Homo sapiens: one gene and its partner. The protein of the gene in region 2 purifies or fractionates together with the protein of the main gene of each other region. This does not show direct contact. Each region holds a gene or a part of one and is shown on either strand. Other genes may lie near its edges.

Region 1 (7,033 bases), on a different chromosome or scaffold from region 2:
ATAGTATAATGAAAAAACGGTTTCTTAAAAATTTATGTGTTGGGCTGGACATGGTGGCTCACATCTGTATCCTAGCACTTTGGGAGGATTGCTTGACCCAGGAGTTTGAGACTAGCCTGGGCAACATGGTGAGACTCTCTCTCTAGAAGAAAAACAAAAAATTAGCTAGGTGTGGTGATGCACACCCGTGCTCCCAGCTACTCAGGAGGGTGAGGCAGGAAGATCACTTGAGCCTGGGAGGTTGAGGCTGCAGTGAACCGAGATCACGCCATTGCATTCCAGCCTGGGCAACGGAGTGAGATCCTGTCTCAAAAAAACCCCAAAGAAACAAAAAAACAAAAAAAAACCAACTATGCGGAGCCAGGCATGGTGGCATGTGCCTGTAATTCCAGCTACTGGGATACCAAAAAAATTCTATGTGAAGGGTGAATTATATGGTATGTGAGTTATATCTCAATAAAGCTGTTATAAAAACAAATCTATGTGAACATGACAGTATAGCATAATGGTGGAAAGAATGTGTTTGAGAACTATGTAGACTTGGTTTTATATACCTACCTCTTGCCAGATAAGTGACCTTGGGCAAGTTATAGAACTAACTTCTCTGACTTTCAGTATCCTCATCTATAAATAAGAAATGTTTGTTATGAGTTTTTTTGTTTGCTTTTTTCTTTTTCAGAGATAGAATCTTGCTCTGTCACCCAGGCTGGAGTGCAGTGGCGGAATCTCGGCTCACTGCAAACTCCATCTCCCAGGTTCAAGCATTTCTCATGCCTCTGCCTCCTGAGTAGCTGCGACTACTGGCGCAAGCCATCATGCTCGGCTAATTTTTTGTATTTTTAATAGAGACAGGGTTTCGTCATGTTGCCAGGCTGGTCTCGAACTCCTGACCTCAGACAGTCTGCCCGCCTTGGCCTCCCAAAGTGCTGGGATTACAGGTTATGAGCCACTATACCTGGTCTGTTATGAGTTTCAAATGAAATTAAATGAGATAATTTATGTTCATCACTTATCAAGTCTTTTGTAATTAATAAGCCCTCAGTAGTGGGTAGATTTTATCATCATTAGCTTTTATAATCTAATTACACTTACATGCAAAAAATAAATTTTAAAAAGTTGAGCAAATATGGAATTAGCCACAGCTTGAAATATATGTGTCTTTTAACTCTGCTCTTTCATTCCTTGAAACCTGCAGCTGGTCATCAATGCTGCTTTGGGATTTGACACATTTGTTGTCATGAGACATGGTCTGAAGAAACCAAAGCAGCAAGGAGCTGGGGACTTGTGTCCAAACCACCCTGTGGCATCTGCTGACCTCCTGGGCTCATCGCTTTTTGCCAACATCCCTGGTTACAAGCTTGGCTGCTACTTCTGCAATGATGTGGTGGCCCCAGGAGATGTAAGTGGATTTCTCTATAGTTCCAAATATTTCCTATCACCAACTTGTACACTGAGGCAGACCGACTTGGCCCTTTCATTTATGACTATTTAAATATTATCTTTTAACAAAGAGAAGAATTCTCCAATTTGGGGAGGATGGCATTATCTCATTATGAACCTTGACTGGCGTCATCAACTGTACACCTGTTCCTTGTTCACCAATATAAACGCGGCTACAAACCATATTTTTGGAAAGCTTATTGAGGAAACCACAGCAGACTAGTCCCTGATAGCACTCCGTATTGTCTCCGGTGCTTCTCTTAGTCAAGATAACATTACAAATCAGGAGTCTAAAGACCAGATTCCATCAATGGCTTGACACTGCCTCCCAGGTAGTTCTAAAAAGTCTCTTAGGTTCCCTCTACCTTTGCAAAATAGGAGTGATGTGTAGGCTTGTCAGATTTAGTAAGTAAAAATATAGGATTCCCAGCTAACTTTGAATTTCAGTTAATAATGAATTCTTTTTTTTTTTTTTTTGAGACAGAGTTTCGCCCTGTCACCCAGGCTCGAGTGCAGTGGCACAATCTCGGCTCCCTGCAACCTCTGCCTCCTGGGTTCAAGTGATTCTCCTGCCTCAGCCTCCTGAGTAGCTGAGATTACAGGTGTGTGCCACCATGCCCAGCTAATTTTTGTATTTTTAGTAGAGACGGGGTTTCACCATGTTGGTCTGGCTGGTCTCGAACTCCTGACCTCGTGATCCACCTGCCTCAGTCTCCCAAAGTGCTGGGATTACAGGTGTGAGCCACCACGCTTAGCCAATAATGAATAATTTTTTGGTATATGTCCCATGCAATATTCAAGACCCACTTATACTAAAAATTTATTTATCTGAAATTCAAATTTAACTGAGTGTCTTGTATTCTCCCTAGCAATGCTAATAGAGGAGGGAAGAATACCTGCCCTGTCAACTCACAGTGCAAAGTGGGTCAAGTGCGACAGTGCTTTGAACAGCAAGACTACACTGTACAAATTAAGATTCTATGACTTTCAGAACTCCACACAAGTCAGTCTGTATGTAGGTCTGTTCCTTTATCAGAACAGATAACGATTTCCAGTGAAACAATGCAGAGATGTTTTCTGTAACCTCCCCTCTATTTTTCCTTTGTTTTAAAACTTTTCCCTTAATAACTCATATCTCTTTTGGATGACTGGCTTTTATGCCCTCCCAATATAAAGAAAAGAAGATGACCATTCTCTTTTATGGAGAAAGATGGCTTGATGATCTCTGTTATGGTGTTATAATATATAGCTGGTCTTGTTATTTAGTGATTGTCAACAAATACGATTAGTGGTCCCTTGCAGTAAAGTCCCATCTGCTCATAAGGTAAAATTTTTATAGAGTCAAAAATATCTCTAACAACCTCTTAATTTGCCCAGAGTTGGATGGTTAGACTCTCTTTGGTTGAACCAGCAAAGGCTTGTGCTTAGAGCCATGTTGTAGAAAAAAAAAATACTTGTAGTAAACCCTAGAATCACACAGAGAGGTGATGCCCATGTTGTGAGAGGCACATAGGAACTGAGGGCCGCAGGAATAGTAAATTGTTGCTCCCATCTCACGGTCACTTTGAGGTGTTAGCTCAGTTAAAATGGCAGGGCAGAATCATTTGCACTTTTCAAATCATTGTTCCTTTCTGTGTCTCTGTCACTTAACTACCAAGCACAGTAGAACTGAATTGAGTCACTTAAAGGAACACATGATGCAGTTCCATTATATGAGGCAGCTAAGCCCTCATTTTTGGTTAATATCCCCCAATCTGTTTAGGCTACTGATCCTTTTTAGCATATCACCTCATTTAGTTACCTAAATTGTATATTTTGTTTATCTTGATAATCTCAAGAAATGATGTACTTGAGGCTGGATGTTCTTTGCCAACAATGAGCATCTGGTTATAATTTAAAGCTTTGTCACAGAGGATTTCATACTTGAGACAGCTAGAGTTGAATGGAGTAGAACGTTCTGCACACACCAATGATTGTTTCTTTGCAGTCAACCAGAGACCGGACCTTGGACCAGCAGTGCACTGTGAGTCGTCCAGGACTGGCCGTGATTGCAGGAGCCCTGGCCGTGGAATTGATGGTATCTGTTTTGCAGCATCCAGAAGGGTGAGTTTGCTAGTAGGAGATGAGTATTTAAACAAAGCTTTTGTAGGCAGTTGTTCATCAGTGTCTCCCATGGCCTTTTCTCAGTCTGACTTTACAGAGAATTTCACTATTTCACCCTCAAAAAAACAAGACTAGAAAAAGCAGGTCTGGTTCTTTGGGCTGAGATAACTTGGCATGTTTCCTTTGTGGCCACATTTCTGCATCTTTCCGGACAAAGTCACTATGGTTTATTTTATTTTTCCAACGCTTATATAGGGCTTACTTTGTGCTAGGCACTGTTCTAAGCACCTTAGAAATTTTGCCTCCTTCAATCTTTTTTTTTTTTTTTAACGAGACGGAATTTCGCTCTTGTTGCCCAGGCTGGAGTGTAATGGCACGATTTTGGCTCACTGCAACCTCTGCCTTCTAGGTTCAAGTGATTCTCCTGCCTCAGCCTCCCAAGTAGCTGGAATTACAGGCATACGCCACCATGCCCGGCTGATTTTTGTATTTTTAGTAGAGATGGGGTTTTGCCATGTTGGTCAGGCTAGTCTTGAACCTCTGACCTCAGTGATCAGAAGTGATTCACCCACCTTATCCTCCCAAAGTGTTGGGATTACAGGCGTGAGCCATTGCACCCGGCCTCCTTTAATCTTCATAGCAAACATATTAGGAAAGAACTATTATTATTAGTCGCAGTTTTGATGGGGAAATCAAGGCATAGTGAGGATAAGTAAGTGGCCAAATTTACATAGTAAATGGAAAAGCCAGGGTTTAGCTCAACCAGTGTGGCTCCAGACTATGTTTAATGACTTTGTTATGCTGTTTGCAATACAGGCAGCAGAAAATCGAATTTTTGAAAGATTTATTTTTCCAGTTCTCAGAAAGTCAATATGCAAATTAACATGAATATTCTATTTCTTGTGTGACTCAAAGCTTTCCTCAGCAGTTGAAAATTGTGGTTGTATATGTAACTAGTATGGGTACTCTGAGATAAATGAAAAGCGGGGCTTTTTTGTCTTCCTCTTTGTCATCCACCTTAGCTATCTGTCATTTAAGTTTATTGCCACTCTCTGACAGGAAGTATTTGGGATAAAATCTTTGAGAGCTGACTTTATGCTTCCTTGACACTGAGCCTCTGTCTGCCACATTTGCCCTGGTCATAGTTTAAACACCAGGTCCTGTGTCACATCTTTTTGGTGCCACAAGTATCACTCCATTGTTCAGAGAGTAGTGTATTAGTTCTGCCCAATTCATTCTTCACTTTTATTTCTTCCATTTCATTAGCATTTATATCAGCTCAAGAAGTTAAGGTTAGAAAATTTTCCACTTCAAATTTTCAGTACAGAAATGTGCTGTGATGTTTGACAAGACTATTTCATAGTAAGTGAGTTAATGTTTATTGGCCTCTGATATGCCGAACATTGCACTCGGCAGTTGATGTAGTAGATTCCTCATTTATTAATCAGAGCTCCCTCATTCCTACTTTATAGATGATGGATCTGAAGCACAGAAAAGTTAAGCAACTTGCCTATGGTCACAAGCTCAGGTCTTTCTGACTCCAAACCATGCATGTTTAAATTACTCTTCTTGCCCTTTGTCCCAGGGAAATTAGTTTTTTGCTAACTTACACTGCCCAGCAAGGGGCATTTTAGTTATCCTTATGAATCTTATGTAGATTTCTGCTAGATCATCCTCCCATGTGTTAAACTTGGATTAAATGAGCAGCTCTGATTGTTTCCTGTCCTCAGGGGCTATGCCATTGCCAGCAGCAGTGACGATCGGATGAATGAGCCTCCAACCTCTCTTGGGCTTGTGCCTCACCAGGTTAGTGATGTGGAAGTGAAATCACAATTCTTTTGGTACAGGGGGAAAGCATGTGGGGTCTCTTTGCCATTCCATCTGCCCAGCCCACTTCATATCCACCCTACTTACCCTGCAGCTGGGATTTCAATGGGAGAGCTTTCTGACCACCTGGAAGGTATTCCATTCTGCGGGATAGTGATGGGAGGAAATCACGAACGAGAAGCATTGCCCAGAGTCTTTGATGCGTTTTGTAAACTGACTAGAGGCCTCATAATGCAATAGGAACAGAAAAAACAGGCTTTGGAATCAGTCATACAATGGTTTAAATCCCAGCCCTGCCGTTATAAAGATGGCCTTCTTTGGCCAAGTCACTAAACTTCTCTGAGGCTTAGTTTTCTTATCTGTAACATAGAGAAGGTAATGCTGACATCACCTGGTAGTTGTATGGATTATGGATGGTTGCTAGAAAGGGCTCAGCAACAGTGTATATCATAGGCCCTCAACAAACAATGCCTGCTGTTTCTTTACTGTTGCTTGTTATTATTATTGACTCTGAACCCAAATAGAAAACCTTTATAGGCAGGCATGAGAAAAACATTAGAAGCATGCAGGGTCACCAAAAAGTGGGGTGTCTTTTCAGAAAAAGAATCCAAAGCATCATGAGGAAGTTCCATCCCTTAGGGAGTAAAAAGAAAAAGGCAGTGGGATGATCTTTTAGAATTCATGTTGCCTCTTCAGTCATTTTCATTACTATATTTTTGGGAGATTGAAGAGGTTTTCCAGTCTTATTTGGAAATCATTTTTTTTTAGATTCCATGTATGTATCCTCTCCTGTAATGTGACTGCTGTTCCCATCAGTGAAATCGTGATGGTGCCCACCAGTCCTATCTGGTGATTTGCAAGGACAGACTCAGACGAGTGCAGAGAGCAGAGTGACTCAGCTCATGCTTGTCTCTCTCTTCCTCCTCGCCACCCACCTTCTGCCAGCTAGGGCGGCACTGTCATATTCAGTTTAGGATGAGAATCAGAAGAGGGGAAACGACTTCTTCATGGTCACAGAGACTTAGTGGATGAGCCACAATCCATACCTAAACTTGGCAGTCTGACAAATGTTCTTTCAAAGGTCTTGTGAGTTGAAAGATCCGTGGCCTGCATGTTGGGAGATTTTGCTTCCTGTTGGTACCCCAGCCCCCTTGCACAAAACCACCCATAATAGAACTTGTGGGCCGGGCGCGGTGACTCATGCCTGTAATTCCAGCACTTTGGGAGGCCGAGGCGGGTGGATCACGAGGAGAGGAGTTTGAGACCAGCCTGACCAACATGGTGAAACCCCGTCTCTACTAAAAATACAAAAATTAGCTGAGCGTGATAGTGTGCACCTGTAATCCCAGCTACTCAGGAGGCTGAGGCAGGAGAATCGCTTGAACCCGGGAGGTGGAGGGTTGCAGTGAGCTAAGATCGCGCCATTGCACTGTGGCCTGGGCGACAGAGTGAGACTCCATCTCAAAAAAAAAAAAAAAAAAAATAGAACTTGTAGAGTTCACTTAGCCTCCCAGAGTCTCAGTTTCCAAATCAAGAAAAGCAGGTGCTTTACTTTGTGTCCAGGATTACATCTGACACGGCCTTGAAAACCACAAAACACTATGAAAATGTGCCCCCCTCTGTCCCCCACACACAAGGTGGCATTTTTTTTTGACATGCATGT
Region 2 (7,033 bases):
AACTTCTAATTACTATGCCACACTTTGCTGGTAAAACATATTATCTCACAGTAAAATATTGTGTTTTTTCTTTGTTTTACAACTATCTACACAAACACCCACACATACACACACACACACACACACACTCACACTCACTCTCTCTCTCTCTTTTGGAGTAAAACAGAAATAATCTATTGTTCCTGAGTTTGATTGTGGGAAAATCACTTAAGATAGGTCATGTTTATAACACCAGTTTCAGGGACAGGTAAATCCAGTAATTTAATTTTTATATATCTTACATTAAAATGAACACACAAATACATTTCTCCCTCAATCTCCATGTCAGACAAATGGAAGTGAAGTACTTGGCCTAGAAAAGAATAACCTGCAAGTGCCCTAATAATGTTGGTATTCCTAGTATTAATAAGTTAGATTTGTTTTTTTGCTATTTATAGTGATGTGTCTTTTTTTTTTTTTTTTTTTCCCCGAGACAGTGTCTGGCTCTGTCACCCAGGCTGGACTGCAGTGGCACAGTCTCAGCTCACTGCAACCTCTGCCTCCTGGGTTAAAGCCAACCTCCCACCTCAGCCTCCTGGGGAGCTGGGACTACAGGAACACACCACCATAAACAGGCAAATTTTTGTATTTTTTTGTACCGACAGGGTTTCACCATGTTGCCCAGGCTGGTCTCGAACTCCCAGGATCAAGTGATGCTCCCACCTTGGCCTCCCAAAGTGCTTGGATTACAGGTGTGAGCCACCATGCCTGGCCATGATGTATCCCTTTGAAGTGTTTCTTCTAAACATTCAGCCTATCAAACACCAGTTGCTGTAGACATTTGTGTCCAAGGGAAAAATAATCCATGTCACATCTTGGTGAGATGAAATATTCCATGGTATCAGTCCTATTAAAGCCAGGGCTGGCCAGGTAAACTCTTGGCATTCTTCGTGCCGCAATTCCTAAACTCAATAGAAGAATCTGAAGAACATAAAACAAAAGCCAAGAGAATAAAAGAAAAATAACTGAGCAGTAAAGACTTATTTAAGAATATCAGTACTAAAATAAAACTATCCATTCCTGTCACTGAGTGCATGCTACTTACAGCAAAGTAAAATATTTCCTGAATTGGTGGCCCCCAACCTTTTTGGCACCAGGCACCAGTTTCAGGGAAAACCATTTTCACAGACCGAATGGGAGATGGTTTCAGGATGAAACTGTTCCACCTCAGATCATCAGGCATTGGTTAGAATCTCATAAGGAGCGCGCAACCTAGGTCCCTCAGATGCGCAGTTCACAATAGGGTTCACATTCCTATGCAGATCCAATGCTGCAGCTGATCTGATAGGAGGAAGAGCTCAGGTGGTAATGCTCGCTTGCTTGCCCACCCAGCTGCCGCTCACCTCCTGCTGTGAGGCCTGGTTCCGGTCCATGGCCTGGGATTTGGGGATCCCTGTCCTAAATAACTTGGTAGGGGACTGATTGGAAAACTAAAAATTAAGTCAGGGTTTGCCCACTAAAGATGAAAGCAAATTTTGCATTTGGTGGGATGAGTCTAAATGCAATGGAGACATTGATCTTTGTAACGGCAAAACATTAAATCCAGGCTTTTCTTTTACCTTGTTAAGGGACATTTCGTTCATCCTGAGACGTTGCTTTGGCATAACTCAGAGGTAGATTCAGCCCAACAACTGGCCCTACAATGCTCAGCCATGATGTGATATAGTTGACATTCCTAGGAAACAAGTGAAATACAGGCCATGCTAACGTTTCCATTGTAGTTTTTGGATGAATGGTAGAACATCAGTTGGTCACCAACAATAACAAAAGTGAGGCTTTCTTCAAAGATTTGTACCTACCACCTGGAATCTCAGCATTTCTGAATGCCAGCCCCATTGCTTGACAAGAATTTAAGGTCCAGAGAGCCTGTAAGGATCCCTCATTAGGGTAGTTGAAGAATGAGGTAAGGTACTGGCTCCTGACTTCCCTTGATGATTCAAATTTTACCCTTACAGTTTACAGCACTTACTAAGGTAGCAGAGTGCAGTGATTAAGAGCATGGTTCTGAGGCCAAAATGCTTAGATTCAAATCCCACCACTTAACTAGCTGTGTGACCTTGTTTGAGTGGCTTAACTCCTCTGTTCTGTAACTTCCTCCTCTGTAAATTGGGCAAAATAATAGTACTTAGCACATAGGAATGCTGCAAAAATCCAATGTCTTACTGTATCTAAAACTCTTAGAACAGCATCTAGCATATCCTAAAAATCATTGTGTTAGCCATTATTATTATTAATATTTCTTTTTTAGCCTAGCATTTAGAGTCACATAAAAAGATTTACACTTTTAAAATCAGAGTAGAAGCCAATGTATCTTGATGGTGTTTCTTACTTATTGATTTTCTGAGAATTCTTTAATACAGGAGTCATGAATTCATTCGTCTTGCAGGGATGAAGTACAAAAAAGGGTTGCCCAAGTATTGGATGTTCCTGTAAGAATCAGAATTGGTCCAGGATCAGTGTGAGTTACTTTGAAAAGGCTAAAATAATTTATCTGGTTTACTCCTTTAAAATAAAGGTTTGTCTCAAATTCCAAGTTATTGAATTAATATACAGGTTTATTTTCTATTTTTAAAAACAATTTATAATCCAAACATCAGAAGAAGTTGGTGAGAAAGGACTATTCATTGATAAAGCAGTATGGTCGAGTATAGCAGGGCACCCATTTTTGTTTACACAATATAAACTGTAGTTGCATTTTATCAGTTCCCTCTCTGTTGGCCAGTGTTTCTCTTTGGCCTATCATTATTCTTCAGTTTTTCTTCAAGGATGTTCACAAAGCTCAGTAGTTTGACAACCTAAACAATTCATTTTATTCACCTCTTTGTCAATGGTAAGAGACTCAAAATCATTTGCATATTTCTTTACACAAATTTTGTCAACATGTTGTTTCAAGCCTACATGTATCCAGTGCCAGTGGGCACATGTTCCACGAGTAGAACCAGGGATGGGAGGAGATGGCCTGCACTATTTAAATTGTTCTACTTCTGTTTGTCTCTCTCTCTCTTTCCGTCTCTGAGTTTTTGTTTTTCTTTTTCCTCATTTCTCTCCTTCTGTCTCTCCCAAGCCTACAGGGCTGTTTTTATAAGTTAAAAGCCTGAAATGTAACTCTGTTTCTTTTATAAGGTAGTAATTGGATATAAGATATAGGTCAGACCATACCCAAGTTAGGGACGTGGACATCATTTGGCAAGCAATGGGGAGCCCTAGGAGGTTTCTATGTAGTGGGTAATCTGTGCACAAGTTCTACCAACAAAAACACTATTATTGATGATACATTTATTGATTATTTGTATTGTGGATTAACCATTATACCAACACTGCAAACTCAAATACCTATGAAGACAAAGCAGGTGACCTAAGGGGATAATGCCAGCTAAATACACCAGCAGATGACGGGGCCCGTGAGAAACTGCCGAGTGCACCCATCCAAGGCCATGCTGGCTACTCTGCTCCAGCCAACTGTCCCATGTGGGAATGCAGGTTCAGCATGCCAGACCTCCCTATTTGTGAAACTAACCTAGAAAAGCTGAAGTTTATGTTAAACCTCCTACATTTAAGTGTTGGCATAATTTATTTTTAAACATGGAGTGGGACAAGTAAAACAGGCTTGTAGGCTGGATTTAGACTAGGGGATGCCTAGTTTCTTCTCTTGGCTTCTTCTCTCAGCCAACCCAAGGGGAAGCTGAACTCAGAGCTGTTGATGGGATGAATTATGTGGCTGTCCTTGCTGCCTCTACCCCTCAGCTCCAAACATTCATGTCTGTATGCTTATGCACATATCCACTCACAAGAACTGGAAGGGACAATTCCTCTTGTATTGGTGACACTGGGTATGGAGATTTGGGGTGGTGGTGGTGAGGGATGAGTTATCCACTAGTGATAGGTTATTGCATGTATCTGGCATTTTTAGCACCACCTGGCATTTGTTTCTCCCTGAGTGCCATCTCCAGGTGACTCTGACCAGTCGCCTGATTCTTCCAGCAAGGCATCAGCTTCCTCTCTACAGCTCTCTTCCCAACCTTCATTCCCATCCCTAACTGGGCCCTGGGCTCAAAGCCCTGATGTGTTGGGCCTATGCCAAGTCCTCCTGTCCAACTTGAATCTGGTTTCCCTTACCTGCCTTAAACTAATATTTAGCAATTCAACATATATTAATCAATCATCTTTTTTATGTGTCTGCCAGAATACTTCTAGCTATAGTTATAGAGACCACTGCATCTCTTAGATAAACAATGTTCCTGATCCCATGGAACTTAGATTTCAGTGCAGGAGACAGCCAATAAACACACAGAACGAATAAATAAGATAATCCAGATAATTATAAGCCCTACAAAGGAAACACAACAGGGTAACATGATTCTGGAGGGATTGTGGTGACATTAGACTTGGAAAGGGAAGGCCTGAAGGAAGAGGTAATACAATGGACTGAATGTGTGTATCCCTCTTAGGGTTACACCCTAAGAGGTGTAACTCTCACTCTTTTCCTATCATGTGGGGATACAGTGAGAAGATGGCATCTATGAAATAGGAAACGGGTCCTCACCAGACACTGGATCTTCCAGTGCCCTCATCCTGGATCCTGTAGCCTTCAGAACTGGGAGAAATAAGTGTTGGTTCTTGAGCCACCCAGTCTATGGTATTTTTGTTATGACAGCCTAAATGGACTAAAATAAGGTGAAACTTAATCAAAGATCAGAACGACAAGGAAAAAAACAACCATGCAGAGATTTGGGAACAGAATGTGGGGGCAGATGACCCTATGGGGGAAATGAGCATAGAAAATATGCAGGAAAAATGCAAAAAAATTTAGAATTATCCTGGACTAAAACAATGACTGTTTAGAAAGCTGGGATTTAAAAAAGATAAATGTAGTCTAAATTCTTTTGGGATGACTTACATAGTTGCCAATGGAAGGAATAAAGAGGTATAATCCAATCTTATTGATGTAAAGTACATGTTGACTTTAATGAAATGAAACCTACAGTTACAAATTTCCACTAGACGGAAACACTCCTAATAGGGAGGATCAGTTCAATCACGCAGCCTCCACTCTCTCCAAGACTCACTTTCCCTTTGGCATCTCTTTCTTATCTAAGAGGTGGATAGGCACTTACAGTTCAGGGGACCATTTTCTTAGAGGAGTCTTAGGACCATGGCACACTGCAGCTCTGCTCATTTGATGCTGCTTTGTAAAGACATGGACTTTACTTCTATAAGTCATCTTTTTTTCATTCCACATAGCAAGTGGGTAAGCACATGCATGAGCTCTATGGTTAAGACTGTTTGAGATCAAGTCCTGCTCTACCACTTGGTAGCTGTGAGCTATTGGGAAAGTCACTTAACCATTTTACGTCTCTGTTTCCTCATCTGGTAACTGTGGCTAATGATAGTATCTGTCTCAGAGATTGACTGTGACCCTTCAATGAGATAATACCACAGAAGTACATAGAACAGTACCTGACACATAGCAGACACTTAGTTGGCTATTAGTATTTAACCCATTAATATCTAAACAGAAAAGAATAACAGCCAGACATTCAGAAAGTAGTCTTATGGTACCCTATAATAAAGCCAAATTTCAATCTAAAAATAGGACGTTCCTGTAAATTAAGTAGCATATTAAAAGCATCACTGACCAGTATCTAAGTGTTTAGGAATATTTGACAACTGTTTATAAGTGAAAGGAAGAAAGGTCTGAATTAGTAAAAGGTCTAGGTCTATATGGCAACTAGAACTATCACTATATTTGTATTCAGGTTTAAAACCAAATTAATGAAAAATAATTTAAATGAATTTAAATTAAAATAAAAGTTTAGGTACTTCAAAAACACTTCAGTAATCTACAACATTTTAATATTCATTTTTCCTCAAAGAACATAAAACAGTCATATTAGCATTTAAGGTTATGTTCTAATAGAATAAAATGCATGGCAATGTCATTTAAAACACTTTTTAAAATAATTGAGACTTTCATGCCTTTGAAGAGCTTTTAGAATAGCTTAAGCATTTCTTTAATGCAGGTTTGGCCATCTTTAAAAAATTCTTTATCCTTTACTATACTGAGACCTTATATTTATATAATTAAATAGAATATATTAAAATGAATGATGGTCTTTAAAAATTAAAAGTTTAAATTTATTAATAAATTGGATTTTAAAATAAAAATTATATTGTTTTGGCAAAATGCTTTTGGTTCAAAAGAATCAAGCCTATAATATGCTGATCAGCTTAAAATAGGAATTATAAGATATGTAATCTTTTAGAAGAATTTTATAAATTAATAACAACAGAAGTGGACTTCCAGCTGTGATAGAATAAAGAGGTCAGCAAATCCTCTCCCCAGAAATTAAATATAAAAATGAACAAAATTGTCAAAAACTAACCATTTTTGGGTCCTGGAAATCAACCAAGGGCAAATATAAAATCTGAGACGTGTTTAGTTCATGATAATCTGCTAAACTTCAAGTTAGAAACAGAGGGAATCTGAAGCCTTCTTGCCTGGAAGTACTTCCATATCCCCTCCTCCTCTTCCCCAATGTCCCCAGACACTCCATCAACAGAAGTTTTACCAGAGCAATCTGGCCATAAGAGCCAATAACTGTGTAGCCAGAGGGGCTGGCCTGATTTCCAACAGATAGCTAAAACTATTGCTCAGCAGCACTGTCAATAAAAATAGCAAAATAGGTACTAAATGAAAAGAAAAAAGCTGCAGCTCTGCTAGCCAGAGGTTGCAGTCCCAGTTGAGGCAAGCAGCAAACTACCAGTAATTTAATGGGGACATTCTGGAAATAAGACAGCCACAGAAGGGGTAGATAAGTTCTCCAGGCATCACTAGCTGATGGGAAGGGGATGTTCAGTGGAGTCACAAGAAGGCCTGATAGGAAGTAAGAGCTAAGGCCAATATGAATACTACTTGAGTTTTTAGCGTGTTCCCAATCCACGTACACATCCATTGGCAAAAGAAAAAAGCATTATAGGCTTGAGGTATTTGAGC

What was found. Proteins that work in one complex are often made in the same cells at the same time.
Region 1: the proteins of ATG10 (region 2) and ATG7 purify together in Homo sapiens (affinity purification with mass spectrometry; 4 studies listed by BioGRID and IntAct, with this or other methods). This does not show direct contact.

Annotation. Positions count from the first base shown.
Region 1 is NC_000003.12:11,359,386-11,366,418, forward strand, and holds part of ATG7 (ubiquitin-like modifier-activating enzyme ATG7), read left to right. Parts: intron 1-1,195; coding exon 1,196-1,399; intron 1,400-3,427; coding exon 3,428-3,543; intron 3,544-5,273; coding exon 5,274-5,349; intron 5,350-7,033. UniProt on the Homo sapiens protein: E1-like activating enzyme involved in the 2 ubiquitin-like systems required for cytoplasm to vacuole transport (Cvt) and autophagy.
Region 2 is NC_000005.10:82,247,995-82,255,027, reverse strand, and holds part of ATG10 (ubiquitin-like-conjugating enzyme ATG10), read right to left. Parts: intron 2,467-7,033; coding exon 2,369-2,466; intron 1,715-2,368; coding exon 1,603-1,714; 3' UTR 1,599-1,602; intron 961-1,598; 3' UTR 1-960. UniProt on the Homo sapiens protein: E2-like enzyme involved in autophagy. Acts as an E2-like enzyme that catalyzes the conjugation of ATG12 to ATG5. ATG12 conjugation to ATG5 is required for autophagy. Likely serves as an ATG5-recognition molecule. Not involved in ATG12 conjugation to ATG3.